Homo sapiens: one gene and its partner. The protein of the gene in region 2 interacts with the protein of the main gene of each other region in a pairwise test. Each region holds a gene or a part of one and is shown on either strand. Other genes may lie near its edges.

Evidence for each region. The genes of interacting proteins can lie anywhere in the genome.
Region 1: the proteins of SYNGR1 (region 2) and TMEM45B interact in binary tests that used the Homo sapiens proteins (3 or more experiments, as listed by UniProt).

Annotation. Positions count from the first base shown.
Region 1 is NC_000011.10:129,818,848-129,822,347, reverse strand, and holds part of TMEM45B (transmembrane protein 45B), read right to left. Parts: intron 1-3,500.
Region 2 is NC_000022.11:39,352,991-39,356,490, reverse strand, and holds part of SYNGR1 (synaptogyrin-1), read right to left. Parts: intron 1-3,500. UniProt on the Homo sapiens protein: May play a role in regulated exocytosis. Modulates the localization of synaptophysin/SYP into synaptic-like microvesicles and may therefore play a role in synaptic-like microvesicle formation and/or maturation.

The DNA of each region.
Region 1 (3,500 bases), on a different chromosome or scaffold from region 2:
AAGCAACATTAAACGTCACTTTAAAAATAGACACAGACATTGTAGGTAGCTGAAGAAAACTTCTAAAATGTAGAAAAAGTACTGAGTTAATATGCTTGGAGAAAGAAGAGAAGATGCTGCGTTCATGAAATGAGAACAGGATACTGTAAAAACCATTCAGAAGACCACACCTCTCGCCAATAAAAGCTCCTGAGAATTAAAAATATAATGGTAGAATGTAAACATTTAATAGCATTGTTGGAAGATTTATTAGAACTAAAAAAACATGGGATATTTTTTAAAATAAAAAAGATAAAATTACAAGACAGATCCAAGAGATCCCATTTTCAGATTCAGTCTAAGTAATTTAAGTTTCAGAAAGAAAGAACGAGGAAATTATATAACAGAAGAAAACCACTCAGAACTGAAGAATGTACTTTTTGGATTGAAAAGGCCTAGAAAATACTTAGGACAGTGACGGATACCTCCCTGTATTCCCCCCACCCCGCCAAAAAACCCACCCCAACATTAAATAACAACATCATGAAATATCAGAATATGAACAATAAAGAAAACCCTACAAATGCCCAGAGATTAGAACAAAATACAAGGGATCAGGAATTAGAATGGCATCAGCCTCTCAACAGCACCGTAAGAAAGTAGAATAAAATAGAGCAATGTTTTCAAAATTCGTACGGGAAATGATTTCTGATTAATATCCCATACCCAGCCAAACCAGCAAGCAAGTGTGAAGGAAGAAAAGTGACATCTCAAATGGGCACAAGCTCAAAAAGCAACCGCATCTTATGGGGCCTGAATCTTATACACTTTTGGGAGCCTTCTTTAAGAAAAAGGCGTAAAATTACAAAAACTGTACATAATTGGGTATGAAAGTACATATGTATTCCACAAGAGATGGCCTAGACAGAAAAAAAAAGTGTGTGTGTATTTAGAATGAGAAAATAAATCACAACAGACAGGGACCGTGGAGGTTCTAGACTCTGTCTTTTCAGATGTGCTTGGAAAATTTACCCCAAATGCTTCTTGATGGCGGCCTGGCGTTTCCTCCCCACTCAACAGCTCCATGCAATTAGCAGCACTCAGAGGGCCCCCATGAGTTTCCTTGGCTCCAGGAAATGACTTCTTGGTGATGAGTTCTCAAACAACTAAAGAAAATGTAGCAACTCCTACACCCCATTCCAGGGGGTTGGGGGAAAGACTGGTCAAGAAGGGAAATGTAAAGATCATGGTGTATCATGTGCCTTAGTTGGGAATAATATATACACCAAACATTGACATATCAAAAATTTAGGATATAACCGTACTGGGAACTTAAAAGAAAGGGATGTGAAGGTGAGAGGGAGGGTGGGGGTGTAAAGGAGCGAAACCCTCATCCTTCTTGGTAGGATGTCAATAGATGTCATCCAGAACTGGAAAAGAGAAGAAGAAATGGCCCGTATCTGCATGCTATTTAGAATATGGTAATATCAGAAAAACACAACCCAAAGCATTGAAAGTAATTGCCGCTAGGGTTCTATACTCAGTATAAACTCAATGAAAACCTTCTACAATGAACGACTTCTAAGACTATACATTGATTTATGTTGACCAAAGCAGATAATTAAAAAATAAAGTATACCCTCAAGAGGAGTGAGGCAAAAAGCTAACAGAAATAAAATAAAGTCGCTTTTGCTAAACTACCTGACATTCGGTGTTTCTCAAAATGTATTCCCGCAACCACCTGCCCTCAGATGACCTGGCGTGCCCGTCCATAATGGAGAATTATAGACCCAGCCCAGACCTACATAATCAGCAGTTCTCAGAGTGGTCCTTGCACTCTACCATTTAAAAAAGTTCCCCTGGACCCACTGCATTACCCATTGCTTTTTAGTAAAACAAACAAAAAACCAAAACAAATAACAACCTATTTAGAGACAGGATCTATGACTCATAAAACACACTATGGCAGATGCTGCTAGCTGCCTACCCAATGTTCATTCTCCCCCCGCCTTATTAACAAAATTCCTATTTTGTTGTTATTATTATTTTTTTGAGATGGAGTTTCGCTCTTGTTGTCCAGGCTGGAGTGCAAGTGGCATGATCTCGGCTCACTGCAACCTCTGCCTCCTGGGTTCAAGCGATTCTCCTGCCTCAGCCTCCTGAGTAGCTGGGACTATAGGCGCCTGCTAGCACGCCCGGCTGATTTTTTGTGTTTTTAGTAGAGATGGGGTTTCACCATGTTGGCCAGGCTGGTCTTGAACTCCTGACCTCAGGTGATCCACCCGCCTTGACCTCCCAAAATGCTGGAATTACAGGCGTGAGCCACTGTGTCTGGCCCAAAATTCTTATTTTGATGTATTGGCAACGTGTCTGTCTCAAACACTAGATTCTCTCTGGTTCCGTCACCGTTAACAGTGTGTATGTGATATGGTTCTGGCCAATGACATGTAAGAAGTCTTTTGGGGTGGGCTACCAGAAAAGCTGTTATTATTATTATTTATTATAAAGAAGGACAGGCCAGGCGTGGTGGCTCACATCTGTAATCCCAGCACTTTGGGAGGCCGAGGGGGGCAGATCACAGGGTCAGGAGTTCAAGACCAGCCTGACCAACATGGTGAAACCCCGTCTCTACTAAAAATACAAAAATTAGCTGGGCGTGGTGGTGCACGTCTGTAATCCCAGCTACTTGGAGGCTGAGGCAGGAGAATCACTTGAACCCAGGAAGCGGAGGTTGCAGTGAGCCGAGATTGTGCCACTGAGAGAGACTCTGAGTCAAAAGAAAGAAAGAGATGAGACAGAGAGAGAGAGAGAGAAAAGAAAAGAAGAGAGAAAAGAAAAGAAAAGAAAAGACAAGACAAGACTCTTCTGGAGCATGCCTCTGCCCGTCTTTCTGCTGCAACTTGCGGAAGTGAGTATGAAAGCTCCATGCTAAGGAGGGTGGTGCGGGAAGACACAAGGAGCCTGTCTCAGATGACGTTCATATCGGAACCCCTTTCCCAGCCCCAGCCTTCTCACCTCCAGACTTCTCGTTCTCTGAGAAAAACAAACTCCTTACTTGTTTAAGCCGCTGTAGTAGGGTTTTCTGTTCTTGTAGCTGAATGAACGTCTAATGACATCTCACACTTTTTCAGATGTTTATCTGACATACCACATTTTATGTATGCCTGCTATGGGCACTGTGCTAGGAATAAGACAAGTAAAGCTCTCTTTGTCATGGAACCAGGAGCACAGTTAGAACAGAAGTTAGAACTTTAGCCACTATAATAACGGCTACAGTTATAATAACAGTTAGAACAGAAGGTCCATAGGCATTTGAGGCTGGGATTCAAGGAGGTTATGTTTGCTGTCACAGACCTCAAACCAAAAGAGTACATCAAAATAAGTCACTGGATTTATACATTTGGCAAATTCTCAAGGGACCACATGACAGAAGGAGCAAAAATCTGAACATTGTTTTTAGCTGTAATTCTCCAATGAAGTAGATTTGGGGAAGCAACATGAGGTACTTGCTTTATTTTTCT
Region 2 (3,500 bases):
CTCCCTGGAGCAGGGGCCATGGGTTCCGATCCCAGTGACTCCAGTTAACCTCTCTGGGCCTCAGCTTTTCATCTAAGGAGGGGATAACAAAACGCACCACAGCAGACTTACGGCAGGCCTTTTAAACTTGCATTCAGGCCAGGCAAGATGGCTCACACCTGTAATCCCAGCACTTTGGGAGGCCGGGGCAGGCGGATCACTTGAGGTCAGGAGTTTGAGACCAGCCTGGCCAACATGATGAAACCCTGTCTCTACTAAAAATATAAAAATTAGCCGGGTGTGGTGGCGGACATCTACTCAGGAGTCTGAGGCAGGAGAATCGCTTGAATTTGGAAGGTGGAGGCTGCAGTGAGCTGAGATCGTGCCACTGCATTCCAACTTGGGTGACAGAGCGAGACCCTGTCTCAAAAACAAACAAACAAAAATAACTTGCATTTTCTTTTCCTTTCTTTCTTTTTCTTTTCTTTTTTTGAAATGGAGTTTCACTCTTTTAGCCCAGGCTGGAGTGCGATGGCGCAATCTCGGCTCACTGCAACCTCCACCTCTCGGGCTTAAGCGATACTCATGCCTCAGCCTCCCAAGTAGCTGGGACTACAGACGCGTGCCACCACGCCTGGCTAATTTTTTGTAATTTTAGTAGAGATAGGGTTTCGCTATGTTGGCCAGGCTGGTCTCGAACTCCTGACCTCAGGTGATCCACCTGCCTCTGCCTCCCAAAGTGTTGGGCTTACAGGCATGAGCCTCCACACCTGGCCAAAATTTGCATTTTTATAAACTCTCGAGGCCTCCCCAAACCCAGGCCCTCCAATCCCATGTTACAGATGAGGCAACCAAGGCTGAAAGAGGTAGGGGTTTTCCAAGGTCCCGCTCTGATGGCCCTGCTCCTGATGCCCTAGGCTTTCTCAGGCTCTTGAGGCCGCCCCTGGGCTGTCCCTGGACATGAGGAAGTGCCCAAAACACAGCAGAAATCTATCACCTCCCAGCGGTCTCCTTGCAGCTGACCCTGTCCTAGACCTGAGAGAGAAGAAGCGGCGGAGCGGCCGGCCACAGGAGGTGAAGAGGTGAGAAAGACTCCAGGGTGGTCAGCAATAAATAACAAACAAGGGCCGTGGGCCCACCTTCCTGTCTAGGTGACAGGGCTGTGCCCGGTACTGGGAGAGGACAGGCTGGACGTGACCACGCATTTCCAGCCACAGAGCCCTCTCCAAACCAAGCTTCCACAGGAGCTTCCGAAATACCCTTGACCCTCTCTCCAGCTTCCCACTGCCCTCAGAGGAAGTCCAGCTTGTGAGTCTGTCATCCAAGCCTCTCCTGGGCCACCCCTTGGGAATTCCTTCTTGTAGTGACCCGAGCCTCTGGGACAGTGCTTCCCACTCAATCCTGTTCTCGTTATTGGAGCGAGAGTGCCTTGGGGTGGCACTGAGCACTCAGCTGGCACTGAGCAGGGGACTTGTGGAATGAACAAATGAACATCAGAACTGGCCAGAGGTTCTGTCTCTACCCTGGACCCTCTTCCCCAACAACCGCTGGTCCCAGAATTTTCCTGTGGCCCCATGGCTGGCACATGGCAAGTTGGTTGGGGGAGGCAAGGGGTCTTATCTTGAAACTGCTGTGTTTACAAAAAACGTTCAGCTTTTTTTTTTTTTTATTTGAGACAGAGTTTTGCTTTTGTTGCCCAGGCTGGAGTGCAGTGGTGTGATCTCAGCTAACTGCAACCTCCGCCTCCCGGGTTCAAGCGATTCTCCTGCCTCAGCCTCCTGAGTAGCTGGGATAACAGGCGACCGCCACCACGCTCAGCTAATTTTTGTATTTTAGTAGAGATGGGGTTTCACCATGTTGGCCAGGATGGTCTCGAACTCCTGACCTCAAGTGATCCACCCGCCTTGGCCTCCCAAAGTGCTGGGATTATAGGCGTGAGCCACCTCACCTGGCCAAGTTCAGCTTTTTTATTCAGTGTTCACTTGGGATGATGGGGGGTGGAGTGGAGGGGGTGAATAAAACCAGGGGTATGAAGCTGCCCCCCTCAGGCCACCCCTTGGTGCCATGGATATCCAGGCAGAGAACCCACAGGGAGTACACAGAATGTGGAGCCCAGCAGTCCGGGTTCAAACCAAGTCTCTGACAAGCCCAGGCCTTGAGCTAGCACAAGTCACTTCTCCAGGCTGAGCCTTAATTCTGTCATTTGTAAAACGGGGGGAAGATACCCACCCCACTTACAGAACCATGTGGTATTATGGCCAAAGCCCTTAAAAAATGAACCCTGAAAATGGCAACATTTCAAACATTTTATCATTTTCATTTTGTCAAAGTAGAGAATTAAAGAAACATTGACTGGGCACGGTGGCTCACACCTGTAATCCCAGCACTTTGGGAGGCTGAGGCGGGTGGATCACTAGGTCAGGAGTTTGAGACCAGCCTGGCCAAGATGGTGAAACCCCGTCTCTACTAAAAATTTAAAAAGTAGCTGGGCATGGTGGTGGGTGCCTGTAATCCCAGCTATTTGGGAGGCTGAGGCAGGAGAATCACTTGAAACCAGGAGGCAGAGGTTGCAGTGAGCCAAGATCGCGCCACTGCACTCTAGCCTGGAGACAGAGCGAGACTCCATCTCAAAAACAAAAAACAAACAAACAAAAAACTCATCTGCCAGCACTGATATTCATTCCCTATAGTCCATCTTAGCCCCCTGCAAAAAAGAATATAAACTCCAAATAAAAGGTGGTCCTTTCTATTAAATCAGTTTAGCTTCTTGCTGTAACTCCTTTTTTTCCCATCTGGCTTTAGAACAAAGAAATGAGTCACTGACAGGCGGCAGTCACCGCGCAACAGATCAGGCACTTCTGACCCAGCCCAGCCCAGTTCGGGTGGGAAGACTGAGGCACAGAGGGTGGGGAGGGGACACTTACTGAAGGTCACAGCTGTGGCCTGGGGGTGCCAGGAGTGGCAGCTGATCTGCCACTGGGGCGATGACACCAAGAGGTGAGAAAGCCTTAGTCAAGAGACAAGCCATGCCGGATGCAGTGGCCCACGCCTCGCCTCATCGTCCCAGCTGCTCACAAGGCTGAGGTGGGAGGATCACTTGAGTCCAGGAGTCTGAGACCAGCCTGGGCAACACAGCAAGATCCTGTCTCTAAAAAAATAAAAAAGAGACAAGCCAGGTCTTGGAGGCCCTGCTTCTGTGCAGGCTGACCCAGGGGCTCAGAGGGCTTGGGTTCCAGGGTGGGTCCAGGTTGGTGAGGCCCTGAAGCTTACATGATTTGGGGGCCCTCTTTTGGAAAAGCAACAGAAAAAAAAATCTTTCTTTTACAAATTTTACAAAAATCCCAGGTCCAGGCCGGGTGCGGTGGCTCACGCCTGTAATCCCAGCACGTTGGGAGGCCAAGGCAGGTGGATCACCTGAGGTCAGGAGTTCGAGACCAGCCTGGCTAACATGGTGAAACCCCATCTCTACTAAAAATACAAAAATTAGCTGGGCGTGGTGGTGTGTGCCTGTAGTCCCAGCT